4 linked regions of the Homo sapiens genome follow. The gene in region 2 interacts genetically with the main gene of each other region. Each region holds a gene or a part of one and is shown on either strand. Other genes may lie near its edges. The genes, in order: AXL, FN3K, MAP2K5 and NPR1.

Region 1 (6,876 bases), on a different chromosome or scaffold from region 2:
CTTCCTTCCCTCCCTCCCTCTCTCTTTCCCTTTCTTTCCCTTTTTTTCTTTCTTTTCTTTTTTGTTTTGACAGAGTCTTACTCTGTCCTTTAGGGTGGGGTGCAGTGGCATGATCATAGCTCACTGTAGCCTCCAACTCCTGGCTCAAGCTATCCTTCTGCCTCAGCCTCCTAAGTAGCTGGAACTACAGACATGTGCCACCATGTCCAGCTAATTTTTAAATTTTTTTGTAGAGACAGGGTCTTGCTTTGTTTTCCAGGCTGGTCTTGAACTCCTAGCCTCAAGTGATCCTCCCACCTTGGCCTCCCAAGGTGCTGAAATTACAGGCTTGAGCCACTGTGCCTGTTTTTTTTTTTGTTTGTTTTTGAGACGGAGTCTCACTCACTCTGTTGCCCAGGCTGGAGTGCAGTGGCGTGATCTCAGCTCACTGCAACCTCCGCCTACTGGGTTCAACTGATTCTCTTGCTTCAGCCTCCCAGGTAGCTGGGATTTCAGATGTGCACCAACACACCTGGCTAATTTTTGTACTTTTAGTAGAGACAGAGTTTCACCACATTGGCCAGGCTGGTCTCAAACTCCTGACCTCAAGTGATCCACCTGCCTTGGCCTCCCAGAGTGCTGGGATTACAGGCGCCAGCCACCATGCCCAGCCATGTTCTGTTTCTTAATCTGGGTGCTGGTTACATGGGTGTGTGTGTGTGTGTGTGTGAAAATTCAGTGAGCTGCTTACTTATGACTTGTGCACATTTCCATATGTACAGTATACTTCAAGAAAAAAAAATTTCATCAAGGAATCAAACCCAAGGAAGGACCTTAGAATCTAGCAAAGAGCCAAAATTGGGAAGTCCTGAGGAAGCCCTTTGTCCCATCCTCACTTGACAGAGTGAACAAGAAGTAAAGCAGTTCCCTTCTGGACTGGGATGAAGGTTTAGGAGACAGATCCCCACCCGCAGCCAGGACAGTGAGGGGAGGAGGTGCAGATGTGTCTGAGAGCCAGGGCAGGCTTCCTGGTGGAGGTGACTGATGCCCTGACCCTGTTCCTTTCCCCAATCCAAACAGGCTGAATGAGAACATGTCCGTGTGTGTGGCGGACTTCGGGCTCTCCAAGAAGATCTACAATGGGGACTACTACCGCCAGGGACGTATCGCCAAGATGCCAGTCAAGTGGATTGCCATTGAGAGTCTAGCTGACCGTGTCTACACCAGCAAGAGCGATGTGGTAGGTGCACTCCCGCCAAGAGTGGGGAACCATGGGAGGGCATGGCCTGACCATCACACACTATGCCTGGGTGGCTGTGGATGCAAGGGTCACAGGGACATGTGGGCTTCCCTTTGCAGGGGCTTGTCCACATGGGCTGGGCATGTCTTGGGGTATGGTGGGCATCTCTGAATAGTGGTGTGTACATGCCCAGGATAAATACAGGCCCACGTGTGCATGGTAGCAATGTAGACAGTTTAGGTTAGAAGAAGCTGCAGTGATTATGCGTGCATGTGCGCACACTCATAGAATGTGGACAGCCAGGGTGTGCAGAGTGGCACATGAGCTCATGTGTCCATGAAGTGTGTATATGTGTGTGATGGTGAGCATGTGTATGCATCCACAAAAGTTACTTATTCATGTGTATACCCGTGTCAAGTATTTTTTATATATATATATTTTTCTTTTTTTGAGATGGAGTCTCGCACTGTCACCCAGGCTGCAGTGCAATGGCATGATCTCAGCTCACTGCAGACTCTGCCTCCCGGGTTCAAGCAATTCTCCTGCCTCAGTCTCCCGAGTAGCTGGGATTACAGGCGCCCACCACCATGCCTAGCTAATTTTTGTATTTTTAGTAGAGACGGGGTTTCACTATATTGGCCAGGCTGGTCTCAAACTCCTGACCTCAGGCAGTCCGCCCACCTCAGCCTCCCAAAGTGCTGGGATTACAGGCATCAGCCACCGCACCCGGCTAAAGTATTATGTTTCTATGAATACTTGTGATGCTCCCAGAGGATGGTTGTGAACATGTGTACATAAGTGTGGGTGTACCCATGAACCTGGGTATTGGTGCGGGTGATTCTGTGCAGGAGAGACTGTCTAATTCCCTCTGCCCCTCACAGTGGTCCTTCGGGGTGACAATGTGGGAGATTGCCACAAGAGGCCAAACCCCATATCCGGGCGTGGAGAACAGCGAGATTTATGACTATCTGCGCCAGGGAAATCGCCTGAAGCAGCCTGCGGACTGTCTGGATGGACTGTGAGGACCCTTAGGTCTCCCCCAACCCAGAATTCATTCCAAACCCCTGACTACCCCCAGATGGCCCTCACAGGTCCAGGACTCTCTATAACCCAGACAGAATCCCTGAGAATGCTGAGTGACCCACTTGCCCCTCACCAATGCTCTGAGTAGGGCCATCACTAACCAGTGGGGTGCAAATCAGCTAAAGGCACCCTTTCCTCCTTTGTCTGTGTGGGCTGAATCAGCCCCCTGGCTCCCCACCCCCAAGCCAGGTATCCTTGGGTAGTGAATAACAGCACAGTCTTACCTGGCGGCCCTGCCTTTGGGACATGCACTCCCAGAGACTTCTCATTCCAGACTCCTGAGCACACCATGCTTCCCCGACATGCTCCTCAACACCTGAGACTCTCTGCAAAACCCTTCAGTTTGTTTTATTGGCCTTCTCCAGACTCAGGTCTCCTCTGAGATATTTGCAGGATCCTTCAGGGAATGCTTACCAAACTTTGCAATATTGGAGTATGCGGAGAAGGCCGTGACATTTAGCTAGCACTTTGAGGGTAAAGAGAGGATGACTTTGGGTCAGGAGGAGACAGCCTGGGGCGTCAGACTCCTCAGTCCACCTTGGGTACTCCAAGAGCTGAGACGAGTAAAAATAACAGCTAACATTTTCATATAACTGACTAGAAGGCACTGTTTTAGGTGCCTGGCATGTGTCAAATCATTTGGTCCTTACCACAGCCATGTGATGTAGATAGGTATCATTATGATTCCCATTCTGCAGATAAGAAAACCCAGTCCTACAGGGAGGGTAATTTATTTTTATTTATTGACTTGAGTCTCGCTCTGTCGCCCAGGCTGGAGCACAATGGCTCCATCTCGGCTCACTGCAACCTCCCAGGTTCTAGCGATTCTCTTGCCTCAGCCTCCCAAGTAGCTGGGACTACAGGCGTGTGCCACCATGCCCAGCTAATTTTTTTTGTATTTTTAGTAGAGATGGGGTTTCACCACCTTAGCCAGGATGGTCTTGATATCGTGACCTCATGATCCACCCGTCCCAGCCTCCCAAAGTGCTGGGATTATAGGCATGAGCCTCCACGCCCAGTCTGGGAGGGTGATTTATTTGCCAAAGATTGCACAGCTGGTGTGTTTGTTATCTATATCCCCAAATCAAGTAGTTTAAAACAACAAACGTTTATTATCTCACACAATTTCTGAAAGTTGGATACTGGGAACAGCTTAGCAGGGTGATTTTGGTTCAGGATCTCTAATGAAGTTACAAAGATATCACTGGGGGCTGCAGTCATCTGAAGGTTGGGACTGGAGGATTGCTTTCAAGGTGGCTTACTCACATGGCTGTAGCAGGAGGCTTCAGTTCGTTGCCATGTGGACCCCTTTGTGGCACTGCTTGAGCTTACTCACAACATGGCAACCCAGGAGAAAGTGCGAGGAAGCCACATGCCTTTTATGACCTAGTCTCAGAAGTCACACACACCATCACTTCTGCCAAATCAGAAGCAAGTCACTAAGTCCTGCCCATGCTCAAGAGGAGAGGATTTATTCTCCGTCTTTTGCAGGGAGGAGGGTCAAAGAATTTATGGACCTATTTTAAACCAGCACAGCTTGTAAGTGGCATAGCCAGGCTTTGATGCAAGTCTGTTCTGGGGAGCTGGAAGGTCTGTTCTAGCAAACCCTCATCAGAATACTACTCCATATACAGACAGGTTTCCCGAGACCCTTCCCAGCTCCTGAGTCTCCCAGGACCCAACTCAGAAATTCTTGGGAATTCCCAAATCCCCATAGATGGCCTCAAACTGCTGAGGCTCCCTATAACCCTCTAAAATGCCCCCAGTCCCCTGAGTGTCCTAAAATGTCCCCAGGCTTCCAGAATGCACCCCTTCTGAGTCCCTGCTCAATCTCCCACCCCTCATTTTGCTGCCCTAGGTATGCCTTGATGTCGCGGTGCTGGGAGCTAAATCCCCAGGACCGGCCAAGTTTTACAGAGCTGCGGGAAGATTTGGAGAACACACTGAAGGCCTTGCCTCCTGCCCAGGAGCCTGACGAAATCCTCTATGTCAACATGGATGAGGGTGGAGGTTATCCTGAACCCCCTGGAGCTGCAGGAGGAGCTGACCCCCCAACCCAGCCAGACCCTAAGGATTCCTGTAGCTGCCTCACTGCGGCTGAGGTCCATCCTGCTGGACGCTATGTCCTCTGCCCTTCCACAACCCCTAGCCCCGCTCAGCCTGCTGATAGGGGCTCCCCAGCAGCCCCAGGGCAGGAGGATGGTGCCTGAGACAACCCTCCACCTGGTACTCCCTCTCAGGATCCAAGCTAAGCACTGCCACTGGGGAAAACTCCACCTTCCCACTTTCCCACCCCACGCCTTATCCCCACTTGCAGCCCTGTCTTCCTACCTATCCCACCTCCATCCCAGACAGGTCCCTCCCCTTCTCTGTGCAGTAGCATCACCTTGAAAGCAGTAGCATCACCATCTGTAAAAGGAAGGGGTTGGATTGCAATATCTGAAGCCCTCCCAGGTGTTAACATTCCAAGACTCTAGAGTCCAAGGTTTAAAGAGTCTAGATTCAAAGGTTCTAGGTTTCAAAGATGCTGTGAGTCTTTGGTTCTAAGGACCTGAAATTCCAAAGTCTCTAATTCTATTAAAGTGCTAAGGTTCTAAGGCCTACTTTTTTTTTTTTTTTTTTTTTTTTTTTTTTTGCGATAGAGTCTCACTGTGTCACCCAGGCTGGAGTGCAGTGGTGCAATCTCGCCTCACTGCAACCTTCACCTACCGAGTTCAAGTGATTTTCCTGCCTTGGCCTCCCAAGTAGCTGGGATTACAGGTGTGTGCCACCACACCCGGCTAATTTTTATATTTTTAGTAGAGACAGGGTTTCACCATGTTGGCCAGGCTGGTCTAAAACTCCTGACCTCAAGTGATCTGCCCACCTCAGCCTCCCAAAGTGCTGAGATTACAGGCATGAGCCACTGCACTCAACCTTAAGACCTACTGTTCTAAAGCTCTGACATTATGTGGTTTTAGATTTTCTGGTTCTAACATTTTTGATAAAGCCTCAAGGTTTTAGGTTCTAAAGTTCTAAGATTCTGATTTTAGGAGCTAAGGCTCTATGAGTCTAGATGTTTATTCTTCTAGAGTTCAGAGTCCTTAAAATGTAAGATTATAGATTCTAAAGATTCTATAGTTCTAGACATGGAGGTTCTAAGGCCTAGGATTCTAAAATGTGATGTTCTAAGGCTCTGAGAGTCTAGATTCTCTGGCTGTAAGGCTCTAGATCATAAGGCTTCAAAATGTTATCTTCTCAAGTTCTAAGATTCTAATGATGATCAATTATAGTTTCTGAGGCTTTATGATAATAGATTCTCTTGTATAAGATCCTAGATCCTAAGGGTCGAAAGCTCTAGAATCTGCAATTCAAAAGTTCCAAGAGTCTAAAGATGGAGTTTCTAAGGTCCGGTGTTCTAAGATGTGATATTCTAAGACTTACTCTAAGATCTTAGATTCTCTGTGTCTAAGATTCTAGATCAGATGCTCCAAGATTCTAGATGATTAAATAAGATTCTAACGGTCTGTTCTGTTTCAAGGCACTCTAGATTCCATTGGTCCAAGATTCCGGATCCTAAGCATCTAAGTTATAAGACTCTCACACTCAGTTGTGACTAACTAGACACCAAAGTTCTAATAATTTCTAATGTTGGACACCTTTAGGTTCTTTGCTGCATTCTGCCTCTCTAGGACCATGGTTAAGAGTCCAAGAATCCACATTTCTAAAATCTTATAGTTCTAGGCACTGTAGTTCTAAGACTCAAATGTTCTAAGTTTCTAAGATTCTAAAGGTCCACAGGTCTAGACTATTAGGTGCAATTTCAAGGTTCTAACCCTATACTGTAGTATTCTTTGGGGTGCCCCTCTCCTTCTTAGCTATCATTGCTTCCTCCTCCCCAACTGTGGGGGTGTGCCCCCTTCAAGCCTGTGCAATGCATTAGGGATGCCTCCTTTCCCGCAGGGGATGGACGATCTCCCACCTTTCGGGCCATGTTGCCCCCGTGAGCCAATCCCTCACCTTCTGAGTACAGAGTGTGGACTCTGGTGCCTCCAGAGGGGCTCAGGTCACATAAAACTTTGTATATCAACGAGCTTCTGTCTCCTCTTGTCTCCTTTTAGCTGTGATGTGGCCCCATTCCCTGGCAATTCAGTTCCCCCATCAGAAAAAAGAAGGGCTTGGTAGGGTCTTGGAATTCTGTCCTCACTAGAGAGGGTAGAAATGAACACACAGATAGACAAAAAGACATACAAGCAAAGAGATGCAGGTTCTCAGAAACCCCCAGTGAGGAACTGGCATACAGATCCAGGATCACAGACACACACACACACACACACACCTGTTCCGCCGCAAACTAACAGACACATGAATTAATGGACACACCCAGGAGGACCTGGTCACAAATACAGAGACTGAAACTCAGACGCATAGAGTAACACAGACACACAGAATTACACAGACACAAGCATATTTACAAACATGCTCAGGCAGATACCCGCCACGAATAGGAAGAGACACAGACCTAGAGTCAAGTGACACAAATACTCAAGAGACATGTAGAGTACAACAGGTACTCACAACCCCGAACGTTCAGA
Region 2 (8,558 bases):
AGTGGCTCACGCCTGTCATCCCAGCACTCTGGGAGGCCGAGGTGGGCGGATCACCTGAGGTCAGGAGTTCGAGACCAGCCTGGCAAACATGGCAAAACCCTGTCTCTACCATAAATATGAAAATTAACTGGGCGTGGTAACGTGCGCCTGCAATCTCAGCTACTCGGGAGGCTGAGGCAGGAGAATTGCTTGAACTCGGGAGGCGGAGGTTGCAGTGAGCCGAGATCGTGTCACTGCACTCCAACTTGGAGACAGGGCAAGACTCCATCTCGGGGTGGGGAAGACCTGTATCTTGGAAAGATGATGTAGGGGTGCACTGTAAGGGGTATATTGGAGGGGGAATTCCAGGCAGCAGGGAGAGGGCTGGCGGGGGCTTTCCTGTGAGTGGGTAAGCAGGACTGTGAGAAGGGCAAAGGCCCAGGAGCCATGGAGGGGCCAGGACAGGGTGGTGAGAGAGAGGGAGCAGTGCCACCGGCTTGTCCACGTATTTCACTGAAGCCTGTGCCACGTCTGCACATCCCACCTCCACCCATCCACGCCTCTGCCTGAACCACTCCATTAACCAGCTGGCCTCTGCTTGGGGTGGCCCAGGGGAGCCGAGAGGAGATGGGGAGGGTGGGTGAGGTTAGGATATCATTCTCAGACTTCCTTCATCAAGCCCACACCCCAGGCCTGGGTGGCGCCAGCTCTGTAGCCAGGCTCAGCTCTGTCCTGTGGTCTCCCCACACCCTGCCCATGTCTGTGCCAGGCCCCTTTCTTGGGTCCTCCTTGATTCCTCCAGCTTGAGGTCCACATCCCACCTTTACTCCGTCCACGCCTCTCCTCTGGGCTGATGGTAGGATCACAAGCATGGGTGGCCCCGACACCTGACCAGCACCGCAGACCAGGCCCTGTACTAAGACATCCAGGCAGATGGGGAAAAAGATGGGTGGTACCACTCCCAGAACGGGAAACCGGACAGAGGGCAGGTTCTGTTTTGTTTGTGACGGAGTCTTGTTCTGTCACCCAGGCTGGAATGCAGTGGCGTGATCTCGGCTCAGTACGACCTCCACTCCCAGGCTCAAGCAATTCTCCTGCCTCAGCGTCCCAAGTAGCTGGGATTACAGGTGTGTGCCACCATGCCCGACTAAAATTTTTTTGTATTTTTCGTAGAGATAGGGTTTCACCAAGTTGATCAGGCTGGTCTTGAACTCCTGACCTTGTGATCTACCCACCTCGGCCTCCCAAAGAGCTGGGATTACAGGCATGAGCCACTGCAACCAGCCGATACAGGTCGTTTTAAAAACAGTATTATTTGCACACCATACAATTTACTCTACTAATTCTCTAAGAAACTTGGGATCACTTAACTGCCCTGCCCTTGAATCTTCAACAGCTCTTAACCCCCCACATAGAGGACTTCCTAGCCTGGTGCCTGCATATCTGTTTCTTCATTCAGGCACCTCTTCTCACTGAGAGACCTGAGCACTCGTATGGTTCTCTGTGTGACGCCTAATATCTGACTGTAGACTCATGAGTTGTATGAAGAAAAATTACAAGGGGCTTTGAGGCAGTAACAGAGAGGACTGACTCTAGACCACAGTGTTGGAATTCCAAAAAAGAGAACCAAGAATACAGAGGGAGAACGCCATGAAGGGCTAAAAGCTGTCCCAGGATTGGAGGACCCACCAGTCCTGTTCAGGGGATGACAGGAGACTCACCCTGACACCTCCCTGGGGAATTTTTCACTGGTGTCACAGAGAAGACCCTAAAAGCCTGCAGAGATAGAACAGTTTCCACACAAAGAATAAGAACTGAAATGGCCATAAGCTTCTCAACATCAAAACTGGAGCTGGCAGCTTCTTGGTTCCTAAAGAACATGGTCTGATCTCCAAGCTGGAATTTGATACCCAGCCAAACTGTCAACTAGGAAGAAAGAAATTTACAGACGTACGAGAGCTCACACTGGCCTGTCAGGAACCTTCTGTCAAGATGCGATAGCAGGGTGGGCTTCAGATGAGAAAAAGCCAGGGACTGGCACATGCCCTTTCTGCAGACACCACAGTCATCCTCCTGTCCTACCTGCTGTTCTGCGGCAGCCCTGCCACTCCTGTCAAGAGGTGGCTGCTTGGCCGGGTGCCATGTGTAATCCCAGCACATTGGGAGGCTGAGGCAGGCGGATCACCTGAGGCCAGGAGTTTGAGACCATCCTGGCCAACATGGTGAAACCCCGTCTCTACTAAAAATACAAAAATTAGCGGGGCGTGGTGACGCGTGCCTGTAATCCCAGCTACTCAGGAAGCTGAGGTAGGAGAATCGCTTGAACCCGGGAGGTGGAGGTTGCAGTGAGCCGAGATTGCACTTCAGCCTGGGTGACAGAGCAAGACCCTGTTTCAAAAAAAAAAAAGAGGTGGCTGCGGATCCCCTTGCCTTGATTGCGGCTTTGGAGACCGATGGAAGGAGGTGGAAATGATGGTGTGTGGCTTCTGAGGCCAGGTCAGAAAAGGCCTTTGCTTCTGCCAGCTCTCTGGGAGCTCTGGCTCTCCCAGTGCTCACTCTTGGAACCTGGCCTCCATGTTCAGGGAAGCTCAGGCCACACCAGGAGGCCACATGGACATGTCCTGCTTGACAGTGACCGCTAAGCCCAGGTTCCAGTGATCCTGGCCGAGGTGCCAGATGTAGGAGTTAAGGAGCCTCCCGATGACCCCAGCCCAGCTGAGCAAGTGGGCAGGACCGCGGGGATAGGCAGCTCCCAAAGGCTCCCTCCCCGCGGCAGGACCCCTGCATCTCTGTGGGAAAAGACAATTGTTGGGGCCCTAAAAAAAACAGATTTATTGATTAAAACCTCATGCATGGCCGGGCGTGGTGGTTCACGGCTGTAATCCCAGCACTTTGGGAGGCTGAGGCACGCAGGTCACCTGGCCAACATGGGGAAACCCCATGTCTACTAAAACTACAAAATGTAGCTGGGCAGGCCGGGCCGGTGGCTTGACGCCTGTAATCCCAGCACTTTGGGAGGCCGAGCGGGTGGATCACGAGGTTAGGAGATTGAGACCATCCTGGCTCACAGGGTGAAACCCTGTCTCCACTAAAACATACAAAAATATTAGCCGGGCGTGGTGGCGGGCGCCTGTAGTCCCAGCTACTCGGGAGGCTGAGGCAGGAGAATGGCTTGAACCCGGGAGGCGGAGCTTGCAGTGAGCCGAGATCGCGCCACTGCACTGCAGCCTGGGAGACAGAGACTCCATCTCTTAAAAACACAAAAAACAAACAATAAAAAAACCTCACGTCAAATGACTTCAGCACGGACTGGGCTCAGGTGCGCACCTGCTCGTGTGCACGCGTGTGTACCCACGTGTATGCATGCATGGGCGCGCGTGGGCATTCCTGTGTCTCAAGTCCCTTTCCCAGGACATCCTGGAATCAGCAGCCCCACCCTGGGCCGGGTCAGCGCGTGCCATCGGAGCCCCCACGTCAGCCTCTCTCTCCGATCGGCACCTGGCGTCCCAGTGCGCAAGCCCCACGTCATCACGGGGGCCGCTGGGCCCGGCCTGGTCTGCAGTGTGGGAAGCCGGCCAGGCCTGTGACCAGCGCCCGGGCCGAGGGCCGGACCTGCGTCCGCTGCGGGGCAGGGATACCGGGTCCCTGCAGGGAGCTCAAGCCCCAGCGCGCCCGCGAAGAGCTGCGCGGACTCCCGGCTGCTTCCCCCGAATCCCGGGCGCAGGAAGCGCGAAGCCGGACGAACGCGGGGAGCGCGCGGCGAGCCCGCCTGAGGCCGCCCCTCCCGCCGCCCGGGGTCACGCGCCGCGCGCTCCCGCCCCGCCCCGCCCCGCAGCGCCTCAGCCGACAGGGGCTTCCGAGCGAGCAGAGTCCCGCGCCCCGCACTCCATGGAGCAGCTGCTGCGCGCCGAGCTGCGCACCGCGACCCTGCGGGCCTTCGGCGGCCCCGGCGCCGGCTGCATCAGCGAGGGCCGAGCCTACGACACGGACGCAGGCCCAGTGTTCGTCAAAGTCAACCGCAGGACGCAGGTGCTGGCCCGTGCGCAGGCGGGGGCTCTGCGGGTCTCTGCGGGGCCTGGGAAGGCGGAGGGGTCGGGGGCAGGCGCATTTCCTGGGGCTGGGCCTGGGGAGGGGTCAGCTTTGGCCCTTGGGAGGTGGCACCTGCTGGGTGAGCCCGGCTCAAGCGTTCTGTGAAGGTTTGTGTCTGCACGATCCGTGACCTTCCTTTGGCCTCCATGCGCAGCGCACAGGCTTCTAGGGGTGGTTTTAACTTTCCTATCCAGCAAGCGTCGGGGGATGTGAGGCTTGGGGTCCTTGGCTCAGCTCTGGGCCGCCCCTCTCAGCCCACCGTCCTCCTGGCAGTGGGAAAGAAGCAGAGACATGGCTGGGCCCCTGGCAGGGACCCCACGGGCCAGGCCAGCGTTCTCCTTCCCACAGGCCTTGTCTGTGTTTAGACCTGATTTCTATCTCCTGCTGAAAATAGTTCTGTTTAAGAATGTATGGAAGGCCGGGCGCGGTGGTTCACACCTGTAATCCCATCACTTTGGGAGGCCGAGGTGAGTGGATCCCTGAGGTCAGGAGTTCGAGACCATCCTGGCCAACATGGTGAAACCCCGTCTCTACCAAAAAATGCAATAATTAGCCGGATGTGGTGCCACTGGCCTGTAATCCCAGCTACTCGGGAGGCTGAGGCAGGAGAATTGCTTGAACCCAGGAGATGGAGGTTGCAGTGAGCCAAGATCGCGCCATTGCACTCCAGCCTGGGCAACAAGAGGGAAACTCCGTCTCAAAAAAAAAAAAGTATGGAAAATGTTAACGGAGGAAGTGGAGAAGGTTAGCTTCAGCCTTGAGAGCCGGCAGGTGGAGAAAGGCAGGCCTGGGTGCCCTCCCGGCCCGAGTGGGCTCAGAAGGCCCTGCACACTCTGGTGGGGGAGCTCTCTGAGGGGCAGCAGGGGTCCTGGTGGGGAGTGCTGGCAGGAGGAACACCAGAGCCATGCAGCCTGGGCGTGCGATCGGATCCTCCGGCATCACCTGCTCTGCCGGCTCAGAACCAAATCCCTCAAAGTGGGGAGTCCTACTCACAGGGAAGCAGTTTTTGGTTCAGGCTTCCCACGGGCTCTGGGAAACTTCCTCAGCTGGTCCTGAAAGCTCTGCAGGGTGAGACCCCTCCTTCCCTCCCACCCCCACGAGGGGCCGGCACATAGTAGCTGCTCAGTCCATGCATAAGAGCAGGTGATGCTGGGGCCCCTGGGGCTTAGCAGCCCCAAGGCCGGGAGTTCCTGGCCTGGTGCATGGGGGGCTCGCCCTGGAGCAGGGCTGGGGTGTGCCGGCCGCCCTCCCACCTGTGGACACTCACACCCACCCTCGGTGCAGGCTGGCCAGGGCTGCCAGGCTGGGGAGGCTGTGCCTGGGCTTTCCCTGGGGTACTTTGAAGGAAAGGGCGTTCTGTTCGTGTGCACCAGCAGATGCTTTGGTCTCATTCATGAGGTTTGATTTTTTTAAACATGCAGTCCTACACTTTGGGCGACTGAGGAAAGGTGGATCACTTGAGGCCAGGAGTTTGAGACCAGCCTGGCCATCATGGTGAAATTCCATCTCTTTTTTTTTGAGACGGACTCTTGCTCTGTCGCCCAGGCTGGATCTCGGCTCACTGCAAGCTGCGCCTCCCGGTTCACTCCATTCTCCTGCCTCAGCCTCCCGAGTAGCTGGGACTACAGGTGCCCGCCACCTTGCCTGGCTAATTTTTTGTATTTTTAGTAGAGACGAGGTTTCACCGTGTTAGCCAGGATGGTCTCAATCTCCTGACCTTGTGATCCGCCCACCCCGGCCTCCCAAAGTGCTGGGATTACAGGTGCGAGCCACCACGCACGGCGGTGGAACTCCATCTCTAGTAAAAATACAGAAAAACACAGCGGGGTGGGGTGGCCCACACCTGTAATCCCAGCTACTCAGGAGGCCGAAGCAGGAGAATCGTTTGAACCCAGGAGGCGGAGGCTGCCGTGAGCCGAGATCATGCCACTGCCCTCCAGCCTGGGTGACAGAGTGAGACCCTGTCTCAAAACAAACATGCAATTCTATAGGCCAAGGTATTCATGGACCACGTTCGTCAATGCATGTTTTCAACCAATGTGTACTGTACGTGAGGTGAGTGTTCACCTAACTGAAAACTGGAATGTTTGTGGGAATATTTCAGAAACAGGAAGGCCCAGGTCCCACGGGAGGCGTTGGGGGCCGGCCGGGTGTGCCGTGCCTTTTACCTTCCCAGCCCCTGCCCTGGACCTGAGGCCCCGCCTGATGGGCCCAGCCCTCTTCTTCCCTGCCTGACGTGTGTGCCCAAGTTAGCTCCAGTGAGGCCTCTGCTGTGGCTGCCCCACCCTAAGAGGCAGCAAGGAAGGTGGGTAGCCCGGGGGTCCAGCTCTGGACCTTGGTTCACTCACACCTCCCCACGCCCTCAGTGCTCCCGGGCACCCACACGTGGCCTGTGCATCCTCCTGTCACAGCAGCCTGCAGACCCCACACCCCTCACGGCCCAGGCTCAGCCTCAGCCTTGCAGCCTCTCGTCTCCGACGGGGGGCCCCTCTGCACCCTGCCCTCTGTGGTGGACGCCAGCTCCCAGCCAGAGCCAGCTATCAGTGAATGAAGGTCCTTGTGACTCCCACGTGGTAGCTTCTGTCAAGGGCCCAGTGGGCAGAGGCCCTGGCTGAGTCAACAAGGCTGACAAGGCTGTGTTCTGGATGCAGGCCCGGCAGATGTTTGAGGGGGAGGTGGCCAGCCTGGAGGCCCTCAGGAGCACGGGCCTGGTGCGGGTGCCGAGGCCCATGAAGGTCATCGACCTGCCGGGAGGTGGGGCCGCCTTTGTGATGGAGCATTTGAAGATGAAGAGCTTGAGCAGGTGAGTGTGTGTGAGACCCATATGCGCACATGTGTACAGGCAGAGAGAGACTCAGAGACAAACAGAGAGAGACAGAGAAAGGGATAGAGATGGGGAGGGAGACAGAAACAGGGAGAAGCCTGTGGCTGAGCCGTCCACACAACTGCCCGGTTATCAGAGGCAGGGCCAAGAGTTCCACCCTGCCATTCTTAATGGAGATAAAAAGTTACTGCTTTCTGGTATGTGACTGGTTTTCCTAGATAAGTTTGGCTGTAATGAGGCTGCATAAAATATATATATATACACATATATATATATATATATATATTTTTTTTTTTTTTGAAACACAGTCTCGCTCTGTTGCCCAGGCTAGAGTGCAGTGCAGTGGTGCAATCTCGGCTCACTGCAACTTCTGCCCCCAGGGTTCAAATGATTCTCCCACCTCAGCCTCCTGAGTAGCTGGGACTACAGGTGTCCACCACCACACCTGACTAATTTTTGTATTTTTAGTAGAGATGGGGTTTCACCATGTTGGCTGAGTTGGTCTCAAACTTCTGACTTCAAGTGATCCACCCACCTCGGCTTCCCAAAGTGCTGGGATAACAGGCCTGAGCCACCACACCTGCCCAAAATAAGTATATTTGAACCCATCATTTGCTTTGTACTTTATTTTTATTTTATTTTTCCAAGACAGAGTCTTGCTCTGTTTCCCAGGCTGGAGTGCAGTGATGCAATCTTGGCTCACTGCAAACTCCGCCTCCTGGGTTCAAGCAATTCTCTTGTCTCAGCCTCGCGAGTGGCTGGGATTACAGGCACCCCACCACCTCACGCAGCTATTTTTTTTTTTTTTTTTTTTGAGACGGAGTGTCGCTCTGTCACCCAGGCTGGAGTGCAGTGGCGCGATCTTGGCTCATTGCAAACTCTGCCTCCTGGGTTGACGCCATTCTCCTGCCTCAGCCTCCCGAGTAGAAGGGACTACAGGCGCCCGCCACCATGCCCGGCTAATTTTTTGTATTTTTAGTAGAGACGGGGTTTCACCATGTTAGCCAGGATGGTCTCGATCTGCTGACCTCGTGATCTACCCGCCTTGACCTCCCAAAGTGCTGGGATTATAGGCGTGAGCCACCGCGCCCGGCCTAATTTTTGTATTTTTAGTAGCATGTTAGCCAGACTGGTCTCAAACTCCTGACCTCAGTGATCCGCCTGCCTTGGCCTCCCAAAGTGTTGGGATTACAGGTGTGAGCCACCACACCCAGTCCATCTTTTTCTTTTGCTTTTTCTTTCCTTTTTTTTTTGTTTTTTGAGACAGAGTCTTACTCTGTCGCCCAGGCTGGAGTGCAGTGGTGCAGTCTAGGCTCACTGCAAGCTCTGCCTCTTGGGCTCAAATGATTCTTCTGCCTCAGCCTGCAGAGTAGCTGGGACTACAGGTGTACCACCATGCCTGGCTAATTTTTTGTATTTTTAGTAGAGATGGGGTTTCACCATATTGACCAGGCTGGTCTTGAACTCCTGGCCTCATGATCTGCCTGCCTTGGCTTCCCAAAGTCCTGGTACTATAGGCCTGAGCCACTGTGCCACTATGCTTGGCCCTGCATTTTCACTTATCATTACTTTCTCAGCATTCCTCCCTTAATTCCTGGTACCTCCTAAGACTTCTGTTGAAGCTCACTTGGTTAATTCCTGTTTGTGATTACATGATGTTATTTTC
Region 3 (7,854 bases), on a different chromosome or scaffold from region 2:
AATTACACATCATGACTAAGTGGAATAATTCCAACACTGCAAGACTGGTTCATTTTGCAAAAATCAATTAATATAGTATACCATATATTAATAGAATAAAGGACCAAATATGCACGATTATTTCAATAGATATAAAACAGGCATTTGACAAAATTTAATACCCTTTCATAATTAAAAAAAAAAAAAACTCAACAAACTAGAAATAGAAAGGAATTTCCTCAACCTGACAAAGGACAACTATTCCAAACCCATGGCTAACATCATATTTAATGGTGAAAGACTGAAAGCTCTCCCTCTAAGGTCAGGAACAAGAGAAGGATGTCTGCTCTCATCAGTCTATTCAACATTGTACTGAAGGTTCTAGCCAGGGTAATTAAGCAAGAAAAGGAAATAAAAGACATTCAGAATTGAAAAGAAAGCACTAAAACTACCTCTATTTGCAGATGGCATTATCTTGTATATAGAGAACCCTAAGGAATCCACAAAAAGCTATTAACATTAGTAAACAAGTTCAGCAAGGTTGCAGAATACAAGATCAATATACAAAAATCAATTACAGTTCTATACACTGGCAATGAACAATCCAAAAATGAAATTAAGAAAAACAGCATTAAAAAAACTTAGAAGCAAATTTAACAAATAGTTACCACTTATACCCTAAAAATTATTTTTAAATCATTGAAAAACAATTAAAGAAGACCTAAGTAAGTTGAAAGACATCTGTGTTCACGGAGTGGAAGATTAAATAATGTTAAGACAGCAATATTCCCCAAGTTGATCTAAAAATTCAATTCAATTCTTATCAAAATCCCAGCTGGATTTTTTTGGAGAAATTGCCAAGCTGATTCTAAAATTCAAATGAAAATGCTAGGTATTCAAAATGGCCAAAACAATCTTGAAAAGAACAAAGTTGGAGCACTTACACTTCTCGATTTGAAACTTAAAAACTATAATAATCCAGAGTTTTCAAGTACAAGTAATCAAATATGGTGTGGTACTGGTACAAAGATAGACAACTAGATCAATGCGAGATGTATACGCATTGATCTGAAAGTACAGAAATATATGTTATGGTCAATTTTCAACAAGTATAACAAGAAAATTCAATGGGAAAAACAGTCTTTAACAAACGGTACTGGAACAAATGTATATCTACATGCAAACGAATAAATTTGGACCCCTATCTCATACCATATATAAAAATTAACTCAAAAATAAATCAAAGGCTTAAATATAAAAGCTAAAACAATAAAACTTGAGGCTGAGGTGGGAGGATCACTTGAGCCCAGGAGTTCAAAACTAGCCTGGGCAACATAATGAGACCGCAGCTCAAAAAAAGGAAAAGAAAAGAAAAAAGAAAGTGAAAAGATAAACAATAAGTGAAAATATTTGGAAATCCCATATCTGATAAGAGCCAAGTATTAGAATACATAAAGAATTCTCACAACTCAACAATAAAAGCCCAATAACTCATTTAAAAAATAGACAAAGGATTTGAAAACATATTTCTCAAAAGAAGGTATACAAATGGCCAATAAGCACATGAAAAGATGCTCAACATCATTAGTCATTAGAGAAACCTAAATCAAAACCAAAATGGGATACCATGTCACACTACAAGCCCACAATTTTAAAAAGACACAAAATGACAAGTATTGGCAAAAATATGAAGAAAATGGAACCTTATACAGTGCTGGTATGAATGCAAAGTGGTGTAAAACAGATTGGAAAAGTTTGGTAGTTTATTAAAAAGTTAAACATAAAGCTACCATATGACCTAGCAACTTTACTCCTAGGTATATACCCAAAAGAACTGAAAACACTGACCGGGTGCAGTGGCTCACACCTGTAATCCCAGCACCTCGGGAGGCCAAGGCGGGGAGATCACGAGGTCAGGAGATCGAGACCATCCTAACACAGTGAAACTCTGTCTCTACTGAAAATACAAAACTTAGCTGGGCATGGTGGCACGCGCCTGTAGTCCCAGCTACTCGGGAGGCTGAGGCAGGAGAATCGCTTGAACCCAGGAGGTGGAGGTTGCAGTGGAGGTTGCAGTGAGCCGAGATCACCCCACTGCACTCCAGCCTAGGCGACAGAGCGAGACTCTGTTTCAAAAAAAAAAAAAGAACTGAAAACGTATGTCCACACAAAAACTTGTACACAAATATATAGAGTAGCATTATTCATAATTATGCATAAAGTAGAACTATCCCAAATGTCCATCAACTAATGAAAGAATAAACAAAATGTAGTATAGCCATACAACGAAATGTTATTCAGCAATAAAAAGGAATGAAGTTCTCATATATGCAATAGTATGGATGAACACTGAAAACATTATACTAAGTAAAGGAAGCCAGACACAAAGGCCATATATTATCAGATTCCATTTATATGGAATGTCCAGAATAGGTAAATCCATAGAGACAGAAGATAAATCAGTGGTTGCCAAGGACTTGAGGAAAGAGAAAGTAGAGAGTGAGTACTAATAGGTAGGAAGTCTCTTTCTGGGGGTGGTAAAAAGTGTTTTGGAATTATACAGTGGTGATGACTACACAACCTTGTGAGTATATCAAAAACCATGGAATTGTACACTTTTAAAGGGTGAATTTTATGGTATCTGAGTTATATTTCAATAAAAAATTTTAATTTATTTGTTTTTTGATACAGGGTCTCACTCTGTTGCCTAGACTGGAGTGCAGTGGCACGATCACAGCTCACTACAGGCTTAATCTCCTGGGCTCAAGCAATCCTCCCACCTCAGCCCCCAGAGTAACTGAGACTACAGGCCCGTACCACCATGCTTAGCTAATTTTCCTTTTTTTATTTTTTTTAAGACAGAGTCTCACTTTGTCACCCAGGGTGGAGTGCAGTGGCGCGATCTTGGTTCACTGCAACCTCCACCTCCCAGGTTCAAGCAATTCTCAGTCTCAGCCTCCCAAGTAGCTGAGACTACAGGTATGCGCTACCACACCTGGCTAATTTTTGTATTTTCTATAGAGACGGGTTTTCGCCATGTTGGTTAGGCTGGTCTCAAACTCCGCTTGCCTCGGCCTCCCAAAGTGCTAGGATTACAGGAGTAAGCCACCGTGCCCGGCCATATTTTTAAAAATTTTTTTGTAAAGATGAGATCTCACTATATTGCTTATGCTGGTCTCAAACTCCTGGGCTCAAGCAATCTTCCCACCTTAGTCTCCCAAAGTGCTGGGATTACATGCGTGAACCACCGTGCCCTGTTTCAACAAAAATGTTTGAGTAGAACTGAAAAATTGAAGACTTCAAAGAAAGAATGATAAAAGTTACAACACAGTAACATGTACTGGCTCAATGAATCCACTTTTTCTGGTCAGTCTCCACAGTTACCATACTTACCTATATGGCTGTAAGATTTTTAATTTTTGACATTCTACTATAACTAATTTAGAGCATGTTGTACACCTTATGACAGTATCAAGGTACCAATGTTGGCTCATTAAAGTTTTGCAGGGCACAAACTAATTGCTTTAGTAATGTACTGAGAATCTCCACAAGGAACTAACAATATTTTCTTAAGTTGTGTTTTAATGGACTAGACTATGGAAAACTGAATATGTAAAATTTAAAGACTGCTTAGATTTAAAATTGGTAAATAATAATAATGATGACATCATTTCACTGATATGTCCCTAGAAATCTGTATTTTGCCGTAATATTCAGGTCAAGAAAGAACTACCAAAATAGAAATGAATAAAAAAATAGAGAGGGAAGGAAAGGGCTAAAGTCCAAAGAAAATTAAACACATCTTGGCTAAACAGCTGTGTTGAAAAACAATTTCTTATCTTGCAATTAAGAACCGATTTCTTTCTGAAAGACACAGGACATTGGGTTAATAGATTTCTTTAAAAGAAAATCTGTTTTGGCTATTGAAACATTAAAAGAACAGAACATCTGTTTTGCAAGTAAAGACAGATTGTGCAAAAGAATCAAATATCAAACCACCAATTAGACTAGCATTTAATCTGTTCTATTTAAATTTTCAATAAAAGTGAAGTTCAATTCTTAAAATTACAGTTCGGCTATAAATATTTAACCCCAGGAACCCCTAACACTGAAATAATCTTAGAGTATAAATGAGGTAATTATTAGCATATTTTATTATCTTTAATTCTATTTGATATCTATATCAAAACCAGGTTTTAAAGCACTATATACTCTAAAAATCATTTTAAAAGTATTATAAAAGGGAAAACTCACCATCCATGAATTCTGTACATATTGAAATCCTGTTTTCTACAAAAAATGCTCCATAAAATCCAATGATATATGATGAATCGCACTGTAACAAAAATAAGACAAAAGTAGTTATAAACCTGCAAGTCAATACCATAGGCATGCTTTACAAATAAAAATTATGAAAAAATTACCTTATAAAGAATTTCCAATTCAGACATAATTTGCTTCTGAAGTTCCAGTGTAATATCTAGTAGTATGACCTAAATATAGAAAGGTATTAATATTTTTTAATCTTCTAATTATATTAGTTATAATCACTATGAAATATAAGAACTAAAAACATGGTAGTTCCTTTATTCTTCCCCACCTCCTTCTTCTTACCACTATAATTCCCAGTAATACAAGCTGTATCTGCATCTGTCTAACCTTTTGTCCTTCTATACTGGGGGAGGTGGTACAGAAGTGATTGATGGGACCAAAGAAAAAAGCCAGGTCTCAAAGGTCAATAGTAATGGCTTTAAAAGTCAGTTAAGTTATAACACTCTTAATTTATGCACTCTATTTTAGCCACATTGGCTATTTTCAAAAGAGGAGCATAGGAATGACCCTCAAACCAATATAAAAGAATTATGTTGGCTACGTGCAGTGGCACACACCTGTAATCCCAGCACTCTGGAAGGGAGGCTGAGGTGGAAGGGTACCTGAAGGCCAGGGGTATATGGCCAGTCTAAGCACCATAGCGAGAACCCATCTCTACAAAAAAAAAAAAAAATTACCTGTGTGTAGTATGATCGGGTGGTCCCAATCTACTTGGGAGGCTGAGGTGGGAGGATCACTTGAGCTCAGGAATTTGAGGCTGAAGTGAGCCATGACTGCACCTCTGCACTCCCACCTGGGTGAAAGAGAGAAATCCTGTCTCTTAAAAAAAAGAACTATCTTGTGGTTTGTGATCAGACACTAGGCAATAAGCAGAGAGGATGATGAATAAAAATGACATTTTATTTATTTATTTAGAGACACAGTCTCATGCTGTCACCCAGGCTGGAGTGCAGTGGGGCGATCTTGGTTCACTGCAATCTCTGCCTCCCAGACTTAAACAAACCTCCCACCTCAGCCACCCAAGTAGCTGGGACCACAGGTGTGCCACCATACCCAGCTAATTTTTTGCATTTTTGGTAGAGATGGGGGTTTCACTATGTTGCTCAGGCTGGTCTCGAACTCCTGAGCTCAAGCAATCTGCCCACCTCAGCCTCCCAAAGCACTGGGATTACAGGCATGAGCCATCACAACTGGCCAAAAAATAACTTTTTTCTTTTCTTGAGACAGAGTCTTGCTCTGTTACCCAGGCTGGAGTGCAGTGGCATGATCTCGGCTTACTGCAACCTCTGTCTCCTGGGTTCAAGCAACCTCTGTCTCATGGGCTCAAGCGATTCTCGTGTCTCAGCCTCCTGAGTAGCTGGGATTACAGGTGTCTGCCACCACACCTGGCTAATTTTTGTATTTTTAGTAGAGATGGGGTTTCACCATGTTGGCCAGGCTGGTCTTGAACTCCTGACCTCAATGATCCGCTCACCTCAGCCTCCCAAAGTTCTGGGATTACAAGCGTAAGCCACCATGCCCAGCCAAAAATAACATTTTAAGTGGGGTTTTTAGTTATGAGAGAAATAAGGAATTTTAAAAATATATCATCTTTTTTTTTTCCAGTCAGGTAATGTTCTTTGCTAATCCTGTTACAGAAAGTTAAAGCTTGAAGAAATCTTATTTCATTAACTCCCTTCTTTTGAGTGAGGAGGAAACCACGTTTCCCTCCTGGGAGCCACAGAGCCTGGGAATGGTAGGACCCCCTCCTCTGGACTCAGTCTCATGGGCTTTTCAGTACTTTATGGTTTATTTAAAATATCAATCACTGAGTGATATTACCCACAGTGATTTATAACCCATAAATATAAAATATTTATAAACTTATCTAGAATAAATTCTAGTTTATTTCAAACACATATTTTTTTAAGAAAGAAGACCATACTGTTCAAATTCTACTAAGCATGTCAGTGAAACTAATTCAAGAGTAATTGTTTTATTTATTTATTTATTTATTTAGAGATGGAGTCCTGCCCTGTCACCCAGGCTGGAGTGTAGTGGCGCGATCTTGGCTCACTGCAACCTCCGCCTCCCGGGTTCAAGCCATTCTCCTGCCTCAGCCTCCCAAGTAGCTGGGATTACAGGCACCTGCCACCACACCCGGTTGATTTTTCTATTTTTAGCGCAGACAGGGTTTCACCATGTTGGCCAGGCTGGTCTCGAATTCCTGACCTCAGGTGATCCACCTGCCTCAGCCTCCCAAAGTGCTGGGATTACAGGCGTGAGCCACCGTGCCCAGCTTGTTTTTTACTTTTAAAAGGCAGTGATGAGAATAGAATAGGTGGAAAACAATTTTTATGATTTGTGGCAGAGTTTCTGGCTCTAGACATTTCTAGATAAAAACTTAACATTCAGAATTACTATGATAGTGTAGTTATGTAGCATTCAACTTTGAATTACATTTTGTATTACAACTGAAGAATATATATACAATCATACTGAAGAAAAAAGCATAAGTTATGCATTATAAACTGCTAATAGAGCAAGGAAAGAAAAGGACAATTCTAAAGTACATTTTATAGTCCTGACATTGGCCAGGCGTTGATTTGGGGAAGCGGAAGGTGGGGAAAAAAAAGGCATAGGTGGTTTCTATCAAGAGTTTGCAGCTGGGCGCGGTGGCTCACGCCTGTAATCCCAGCACTTTGGGAGGAGGCTGAGGCGGGCAGATCACGAGGTCAGGAGATCGAGACCATCCTGGCTAACACGGTGAAACCCCATCTCTACTAAAAATACAAAAAATTAGCCAGGTGTGGTGGCGGGCACCTGTAGTCCCAGCTACTTGGGAGGCTAAGGCAGAAGAATGGCGTGAACCCAGGAGGCGGAGCTTCCAGTGAGCTGAGATCACGCCACTGCACACCAGTCTGGGCAACAGAGCGAGACTCTGTCTCAAAAAAAATAAAAGAGTTTGCTTTGGGGTTATTTATAAGATCTCAGTAAACTAGACTGTAAGTGTAATACAAAACTGCCAAGAAACATTTAAACACTTCTCCTGATCAATAGTCACTTGCCAACAATATTCACTTACATTTTTGTTTTTGTGTAAAACTTACCAACAAAATTAATTCATCTAGCATCAGTTCAATCCTATAGCATAAAATACTACAGCTATTCCTACTATGATGACAAGTACCAGGAATCTCTCACTCTAAAAAAGTCTGATAAAAGGAATGAAGTTATTATTAACCTTAAATCAATGGTTCTCAACCCTGGCCTCATATCGTAATACCTAGGGCACTTGAAAAAAATCCCAAGGTGCAGGCTTTACCCCAAAACAATGGAATGAGAATCCCTTGGGTTGGGCCCACATCTTTGTTATTTTGTAAAGCTCCCCAGGTAATTCCTAACCCAAAGTAAGGTTGAGAATCACTTATTTAAGGTTTCAAAAGCCATTTATTCAGTGCTAAGATATATGACTATTAAGATATATTGCATCTCCAGGCCACCAACAACCCAGAAATGACATGATTCCACATTGCTAGCCACCCTCCTGGAATTAACCCCAAA
Region 4 (7,854 bases), on a different chromosome or scaffold from region 2:
CACCTCAGCCTCCAGAGTAGCTGGGACTACAGGTATGCGCCACCATGCCCTGCTAATCTTTGTATTCTTTGTAGAGACGATGTCTTGCTCTGTTGCCCAGGCTGGTCTTGAACTCCCAGGCACAAGCAATCCTCCTGCCTCGGTCTCCCAAAGTGCTGGGATTGCAGATGTGAGCCACTGTGCCTGGCCCACCCTGCTTTATGTTCCACATCATAAAATTTCCTCCTCATTTACTTTTTTTTTTTTTAAAGTGTTTTCACAGGTACTATCTCCTCTGACCTTTAAAAGAGCCCTGTGAGGGAGGCTCTGCTGCTGTAATCATCATCTGAGACAGTCTCGGAGAGGGACTATGAGTCGCTCAAGGTCACACAGCAAGTGAAAGCAGAGCTGGGACTAGAATCCTGCTCCCTTACCTATCCCTCAGGCACTGCCCCTTGTACCCACCTCTCCTTTATTGCCCCCCAACACAAACACCAGCGTTCTTACCCCGCTCAGGGTCAGCCGGCTGCCTGCACTCCGCAGGTGCCTCTCAAGGCTACTGGGCTCAACGTCCTCCCAGCGCACCCGCCACAGCTCCGAGGCCAGTTCCTTCTCCAGCTGCATCTTCCTGGGATACGAAGGCTGCATCTGAGCCTGTGGCTGAGCCGCTGACCCAGGGCAGGGTGCTCAGCAGCCCCTCCTCAGAGCCGTGGGACCACACCATGCACTCAGAGATGGAGGGGGAATTCTATCCTCTGGACTGAGAATCAGGATGGCTGGGGGAAATTCTGCCTTACTGGGGACCTTGGGGGAATCACCTCAATGTCCTTACTTGGGAATGAGGCCGCAATATCTATTTCATTCTTAACTATTATAAGAATGAAAAGAAATAGTGAACATGAGGCCAGGCACAGTGGCTCATGCCTGTAATCCCAGCACTTTGGGAGGCCAAGGTGGGTGGATCATGAGGTCAAGAGATCGAGACCATCCTGGCCAACATGGTGAAACCCTGTCTCTACTAAAAATACAAAAATTAGCTGAGCGTGGTGGCATGTGCCTGTAGTCCCAGCTACATGGGAGGCTGAGGCAGGAGAATTGCTTGAAACTGGGAGGCGGAGGTTGCAGTGAGCCTAGATCATGCCACTGCACTCCAGTCTGGCAACAGAGCGAGACTCCGTCTCAAAAAAAAAAAAAAAAAAAAAAAAGAAAGAAAGAAATAGTGTACGTGGAAGTGCCTGGCACACATTATATGCTCAACCAGCAGTGATTTTTCTCCCCTCCCTCCTTGCTTTTGTATATCATTAACTCCTCCTGTACTTCATTTTAGCCTCCACTGGACGGCAGGAACAAGGCTCATTCAGCTCCCTTCTCCATTCTAGGTTGGGCACCTGGCACACACCAGGGCTCACCCTCCTCAGCTAACATGGGCATGATTGCAAAGGTTCAGAAAGTTGCTTCCTATCTGGCCTGCAAGAGTAGCAAGGAAAACCAGTCCACGCCCCTATGATGTCACCCATCAACTTCTCTGCTTCTTGGATCTTTCTGACTCTCCTTGGCCATTCCTATCCTTGTCTCCTCCCCTCGCCCTGCCATTCCCTTCTCTTTCTTTCTCCTCTGGCTTTTAAGCCTCCTTTCTTCCTCATCTCCCTTGGTTTTCCCCTGGTGCCCCTTCACCCCTGCCCTCTTCCCTCTGGGTCCCCACCGCCTCCTCTGCTATTGGTTCTCCGGGTCCCCCAGCCTCACTCAACCCCCCACATCACAGCTCACCTGTATATGAAGAAGGAGACAATCAGAATGCCGAGCAAGGAGAGGCTGCCCACCAAAGCCAGCACCTCCAGGGTGGAAAGGTGATCTGCAGGAGAGAGTCCATATTGCAGCAAGAGAGATTTGGGTTAGACAGCAGGAGGAAGAACTTTCTAATAGTCCATCAGTGAACTGGGATGATGGATGAAGGGAAGAAAAAGGCAGGAGTCATTCTCCAGAAAGCCCTCAGCATGGGACAGGAGCACCTACTCGACTGTGCTTAGGGGAAGGATGCAGCATCTCTGGGATGGAGGCCTGGAAGGCAAGGGGCAGTCACCTTGGTTGCATGCTGGGTCTTCGTTGTCAAAGCCACATTTGGGGATGTCAGGAGGAGGGTACCCCAGGGGCCAGTTCAGTTTGCGCCCCGACACAGCCACCAGCTCTTGGGAAGTCCCATTGTAGTTCAGTACAACCTAAGGGAGAGCAGGAGTGGTGGCTAGGCCAGGGCCTGCGGGGAAGGCATGCTGTGAGTGCAGCAGTCTCACCTCCCACCTACCCCAGCTCTGCTTCTAGAGCCTACATATATATCTGGGTTGTCACCTGCTTACCAAGTCCCCACTGCAACTGGACACAGGACCTCATACCACACACATAGTACTCAAGTGGAAACACCTGAAAACTATCAAGGGGTTTATAAAGAAAACTCCATTTAGAACCCGATCTCTACACTCAGGGAGTTTATAATCTTGGTTGAAGTACCAACCAAGCATTGATTTTTCTCTACTTATTTTCTTGGTAGAAAACAGGAGAAGGTAATGTTCACCTTAGCCTACATTCGCAGGCCCAGTCCATGTGCCCGTCTTCCAGGAGGCCTTCTCTGGATGACCTGTCCCTTGTGGCCATTGGCCTCAGCGCCTTCCTGTCCCTGCTCGCTTGCAGAGCTGTGTAATGTGCATCTTTCACAGCCCTGTCTCTGCTGGGAGGCGGTCCTGCCTGCCTCCCTTCGGAGCTCCCCGAGGGCAGGCTTGTGCTCCCTCCTCAGGCATGGGGCTCCCCAAGTGTGATGCCTGTGAGTCCCTATCATTCTGGTGGCTTCCCCAGACTGGAGCTGGGTCTGTTTTATCCAGGGCTCTTGTAAGTGTCCAGGCATGGTGGAATGGCTACAGGATAAACAGGTGCCCTGGCAGGGCTGTGGGGGGGAAGTAGGAGGGTGAGATGTCATTTGGAATTGGCACTGTCTTCTGGGTGCACAAACTTACCCTGAAGGCACCATTCTCGGGATCCATATCCCAGAGGGAGAAGTCTGTTTCCCGATCGCCACTGCTATCAATTTTCAGGTATCCTGTCACACCTGAGGACATGGGGGAAGATGACTATGTTTGAGAGAATAGAAGTTCAGGGGTGCCCCACTTCATCTCTTCATCCTCTAATCTTTTTTGCCTTGCCTTCCAAACATACATGTATACAGAATGATAGTAAATGGTAAAACGGCCGGGCACTGTGGCTCATGCTTGTAATCCCAGCACTTTGGGAGGCTGAGGCGGGCAGATCACCTGACGTCAGGAGTTCAAGACCAGCCTGACCAACGTGGTGAAACCCTGTCTCTACTAAAAAAAATACAAAAAATTAGCCAAGTGTTGGTGGAGGGCACCTGTAATCCCAGCTACTCAGGAGGCTGAGGCAGGAGAATTGCTTGAACCTGGGAGGCGGAGGTTGAAGTGAGCCGAGATTGCACCACCACACTCCAGTCTTGGGGACAGAGCGAGACTCCATCTCAAAAAAAAAAGAAAAAAGAAAAAGAAAGGTAAAAGAACTCAGTGCCCAGCAGGGATGATTGAGATTGGACACTTTGTAGGACTTCTGAGGGATGGGCCTGAAAAAAGCTGTGGAGGAAAAGGCTGGTGTGCATAGGTAACTGCTGCAGGACAATAGGCTTCTCATGGCTTGACACTGGGCACCTGGGATTCATCCCCCAAGGCAGCCCATTCCAGCCACCTCCAGGCCCTGACCTTGAAAGCTTCGGTTCCACATCCGCTGAGTGATGTTCTCCCCATCAGTAACAGTTCCCCCATGTGCCAGAGTCTCCGTCACTGCCTGGATATAGAGCAGGAGCCCGTCGTGGAAGGATGCTGGGATGGTGTTCACCTGTAGGGGCAAACAGAGGTCGGCTGGGGTGGGCATATGAAGGGCATGGAGGTGGGAGCTGTGGGGAAGGGAACAAGAGGCACTGGGATTTTGGAAGAGGATGGGAGAAAATAACACCCCTATATCACAGGGAGATTTTACTATTTAAACGATGCCTTTGGATTAGCATCACTTCCTGAATCCTACTAGGTAGACAGGGCAGGATGTATCGTCTCCATATTACTGATGATGACCTGAGTTTCAGAGGCTGAACTTGCCAGTGTCCTCCTCCATCATCACGAGAAACATGGAACAATGGGAAGGGAGGGAAGGAAGGGGAGAACTGGGAATAGGGAAGGATGGAGGCTGGCAGAGGGTCATGGAGTGGGGGCTGGAGGTCCACGCTGGAGGGTCCCGGGACCCCTTCTTACCAGGCCATCCTCCATGGTGAAGTTGAACTGCTCATAGGCCAGGTGTTTTAACTGCTTCAGGAATTCCAAGTACTCGGGATTATCTGGGTCTTTATATGTAATGATTTTGGCAGCCTGAGAAAGGGGTCAGTGGAGAGCAGAGAGTTGGGAGCTGACTATTCCCTAGTACTGTGGGGCCCCAACAGTTGGGAGCCCACCTCCCAGAGCTGCGTCTCTGCTTAGCTCAAGGTCAAACTGGACCCTATGCCCTGCATGAAGTGATGCCCATTCCAAAGCAGGGGATCCAATGGGATGCCTTCTCCAAGTCCTGTCCAGGCTGTGGGACTTTATCCTCCTCCCGCCTCAAGCCCATTTTCTTATCTTTTTAGCCTGCTGGTGGCGAAGCGCCCCTGGGCAGTCCCCTGCCCTTCATTGCCTAATTCCCAGTGAGCATCACCAACCTCTTTTCTGTTCTGTGAGTTACCAGGAGTGCATAAAGAAACAAACAGACAAAAACCTCTTTTCTGGAATTCTTTCAGACGCTGAGGGACACAGTGCCCAGAAATGATGTGCCACAAGCTGAGACAGCCTGGGCTTCAAACCTAGGTACTCACCTGAAAGGCCTGGCGGGCACTGACATCCTGCCCATCCCCTCTCTCCCAGGGCCTGCGGGGAGCAGGGCCCTGTCCACCTTGCAGGCTTTGCCCAAAGATATCCAGGTGGAAGAAAACGTAGTCCTCCCCACACAAGCCAGCTTCCAGGGCCAGGAGCATGAGGGTTCTGAAGGCATCAGGGGAGCTGCAGATGTAGATAACTGGAGAAAGACGGAGAGTCAGAGAGAGAAGCCTAGGTACTGCGGGAGAGACAGGAGTAGGAAAGCTGGGGCACCCAAGGGAGGAAGTTTAGAGATAGGGTGCAGGAGAGACCCAGTGAGAGTTAAGTGGTAACTCCCGGCTCAGCCTAGGCCACAGCAGGAGAAAGTCGAAGGGTGGAACGGGCGGGTGCGGGGCGGTGGGCGGGAGGAGGAAGGGGGAGGCGGAAGGGAGGAAGGAACGGGTAGGGAGAGGGGGATAGTGGAGCTGAAGGTGGAGAAGGATGGGGCCAGGAGGGAGAGAGGAGGGAGAGGGAGGGGGAGAAGAGAGGGGATGAGGCGCAATGAGAGGAGAGGATGAAAGAAGGGAGAAGGCTATAGGGAAGAGAGAAAATGTGGGAGGGAAAAAGGGACCGGAACCGAGCTGTGCTAGGGTGGGAGGGAATGAGTGGGGGTCGGGGAGATGAGAGGATAGAGACGTGGTGGGGGTGGCGGAAGAAGAGAGGGAAATAGAAACTCAGCTGTAGAAAGGGCCAGGGAGCTGAAAGTAGAATGAAGAACGGCGAGGAGAAAGAAGAGTGCCCCCAGATGAGAGAGAAAGTCCCGATGCCTCCGGCAGGTCAGAGGGGAGGCCCTGCGGCTAAGCGGCGGGACGGGGTGTGCCAGCGTCTCACCTCGGCCTTTGCGCGGCATGGTCCGCAGCAGCCTGGTGTAGTGGCTGAGGTCGTCCTCGGCGAACTCCAGGTGGTCCACCGTAATATTGAGGCGGTCGCGGACCCGCATGAACAGCCCCTCCACGAGGAAGAAGCAGTGCTCTTCGTCACCCGGCCGGTAGGCGTAGAGCATGAGCGCTTGGCGCTCCCAGCCCAGCCGTCGGTGCAGCGCCGCCACGAAGTCCCCCAGCTTGGCGTAGCTGGGCCCCGCGCGGGTGGTCAGCGCATACTCGTCCTTGACACCGAAGCCCAGCGCCGGGGCGCCGGCGGTCAGCAGCGGGACCCGCCAGTGCGCGGTGAAGCGCCCCACTGGGGCGGCGGCGTACACGCAGCCGGGGCCCAGGAACACAGCGGGGTTGTGCTCCCACTTGAGGTCCACCGCGGCCAGGGGCGCTGCGGTGTCGGAGCAGACGCCCAGCGCGTTTTCGCTGCTGCCCAGCACCGTGCGGACCGTCCAGCCCGGCAGCAAGTCGGGGCGCGCCTTCACCTGGGCCAGGGCCAGCTCCACGGCGGGTCCCACGCGCGCCCACGACCAGGGGTACGAGGTATTGGCCAGCGGCAGTACCACGGCTACCGTCAGGTTGCCCGCGTGGCTGCCCCGGAGCAGCAGCAGCAGCGGCGGCAGCAGCAGGAGCAGGAGCAGGCGCAGGCGGGAGCCAGCGGGGCGCCGGGGCCCCGGCATGGCCTCAGCGGGCACCGCAGCAGGCGAGCGCTCCTACCATGGCCTCCTCGGTCCCCTTGGGCTCAGCGGCCGGTCCCAGGCATCAGGCGCGTCCCTATGGGAAGGAGCAGGAGCGGGACGGGGACGCTCACCCCGGGGCTCGAGGCCCCCTGTAGCTGCGACGGTCTGGGCCGAGAGCGCAAGGGGCGCGACCGAGGGGGGCGCGCAGGGCGCCGCGGAGCAGGTGGGTGCCAGGAGAACGTCGGGCTGGAGAGGACCCGAGTGTGAACAACTGGGAGTGTGCGTGCGTGTTAGAGAGAGAGAGAGAGAGAGAGAAAGGGTGCGAGTGAGCGCTTCGTGAAGAAGGATGAGAGAGGGCGCGCGAGGGAGGAAAGAGGAGTGTGTGTTTGTAGCGTGCGTGAGCGCCTGCCCCAGGGAGTGTGCCAGAAGGGGCGTCCGGCCGGCCCAAGTCTCCGGCTATCCGGAGGGAACCGTGGAGGACCCGAGCCAAGCTCCGAACCCTCCCTCCCAGCCGCTTCCCCTCCCAGACTCAGTGACAGAAGAGCCAATCCAGGATCTTTAACTCCTTCCTCCCCGCCGCCCAGCCCGCGCGCTTCCCCGTGGACCATCTTCCCCGGTCTCGGCCGCCCCACGCCTACCTCTTTGGAGGACAGGACCCTCTGAAGGTGCGCCCTCGCCGGGATGGAAAGGACGGCTGAACGGAGGGTGTGTGTGGAAGCAACCGGGGCCCACTTGCGCCCCACCTTTTCCCTCGCCTCCTACCTGGTCTCCTCGGGGGAAGAGGGAAAGGTGTGCTGGTTTGGGATCCTGGCAGGAAACTGAGTGAGTGCGTGGATGTGTGTGTTTGGGTGTGGGGTGGAAGGTGACGGGTTTCTGGAAAGTCCGTTAAAGTTGAAGGTGAGCCCAGAGTGCTTGTTACCCATTCCTTCTATGATCTCCCTCTCTTTCCCTCCCTGCCACCTTCCAGACTGTGCAGATTAGCTGTGAAAAAATGATCTGGTGTCAGAGAGGAATTAAATCTTTAGCGCCCAAATTGTAGGAAGATGGGGAGAGTGGGTGGGTGTCTGGGAGGGAGGAGGTTCACACCTCAGGGACGCCCCAAGAAAATGACTGTTTTGTGTTGAGGGTTGTTAAAATGAAGGCTGTGGGAGATGACCACTGGAGGCGTAAATTGGGGAGTGGGTTTTGGAGCACTTGACAGCTGGGCCCCCGGTGCAGACTGCTGTGGAATCAGTGTGCCCTCTAATGGTCATCGGGGGTTATTGACGGCATTGCAGCGCCAACCTCTCCAACGCTGCGCCTAAGCAGGACATAAGATCACCAAACTTCAGGTCAGCAAACATTTCCAGAGAACCTTCGGTGCATTAAGCACCCACTAGGTGCCGAGGGCAT

Evidence for each region.
Region 1: changes in FN3K (region 2) and AXL together harm fitness more than expected from each alone (negative genetic interaction), as found in Homo sapiens cells (one large-scale study listed by BioGRID).
Region 3: changes in FN3K (region 2) and MAP2K5 together harm fitness more than expected from each alone (negative genetic interaction), as found in Homo sapiens cells (one large-scale study listed by BioGRID).
Region 4: changes in FN3K (region 2) and NPR1 together harm fitness more than expected from each alone (negative genetic interaction), as found in Homo sapiens cells (one large-scale study listed by BioGRID).

What each region holds. Positions count from the first base shown.
Region 1 is NC_000019.10:41,255,393-41,262,268, forward strand, and holds the end of AXL (tyrosine-protein kinase receptor UFO isoform 1 precursor), read left to right. Parts: intron 1-1,059; coding exon 1,060-1,219; intron 1,220-2,100; coding exon 2,101-2,237; intron 2,238-4,160; coding exon 4,161-4,512; 3' UTR 4,513-6,374; downstream 6,375-6,876. UniProt on the Homo sapiens protein: Receptor tyrosine kinase that transduces signals from the extracellular matrix into the cytoplasm by binding growth factor GAS6 and which is thus regulating many physiological processes including cell survival, cell proliferation, migration and differentiation.
Region 2 is NC_000017.11:82,731,770-82,740,327, forward strand, and holds the start of FN3K (fructosamine-3-kinase), read left to right. Parts: upstream 1-3,845; 5' UTR 3,846-3,867; coding exon 3,868-4,008; intron 4,009-6,719; coding exon 6,720-6,871; intron 6,872-8,558. UniProt on the Homo sapiens protein: Fructosamine-3-kinase involved in protein deglycation by mediating phosphorylation of fructoselysine residues on glycated proteins, to generate fructoselysine-3 phosphate.
Region 3 is NC_000015.10:67,642,849-67,650,702, reverse strand, and holds part of MAP2K5 (dual specificity mitogen-activated protein kinase kinase 5), read right to left. Parts: intron 4,473-7,854; coding exon 4,404-4,472; intron 4,316-4,403; coding exon 4,234-4,315; intron 1-4,233. UniProt on the Homo sapiens protein: Acts as a scaffold for the formation of a ternary MAP3K2/MAP3K3-MAP3K5-MAPK7 signaling complex.
Region 4 is NC_000001.11:153,677,717-153,685,570, reverse strand, and holds the start of NPR1 (atrial natriuretic peptide receptor 1 precursor), read right to left. Parts: upstream 6,884-7,854; 5' UTR 6,463-6,883; coding exon 5,742-6,462; intron 5,071-5,741; coding exon 4,871-5,070; intron 4,392-4,870; coding exon 4,278-4,391; intron 3,868-4,277; coding exon 3,732-3,867; intron 3,074-3,731; coding exon 2,982-3,073; intron 2,196-2,981; coding exon 2,060-2,195; intron 1,832-2,059; coding exon 1,747-1,831; intron 608-1,746; coding exon 487-607; intron 1-486. UniProt on the Homo sapiens protein: Receptor for the atrial natriuretic peptide NPPA/ANP and the brain natriuretic peptide NPPB/BNP which are potent vasoactive hormones playing a key role in cardiovascular homeostasis.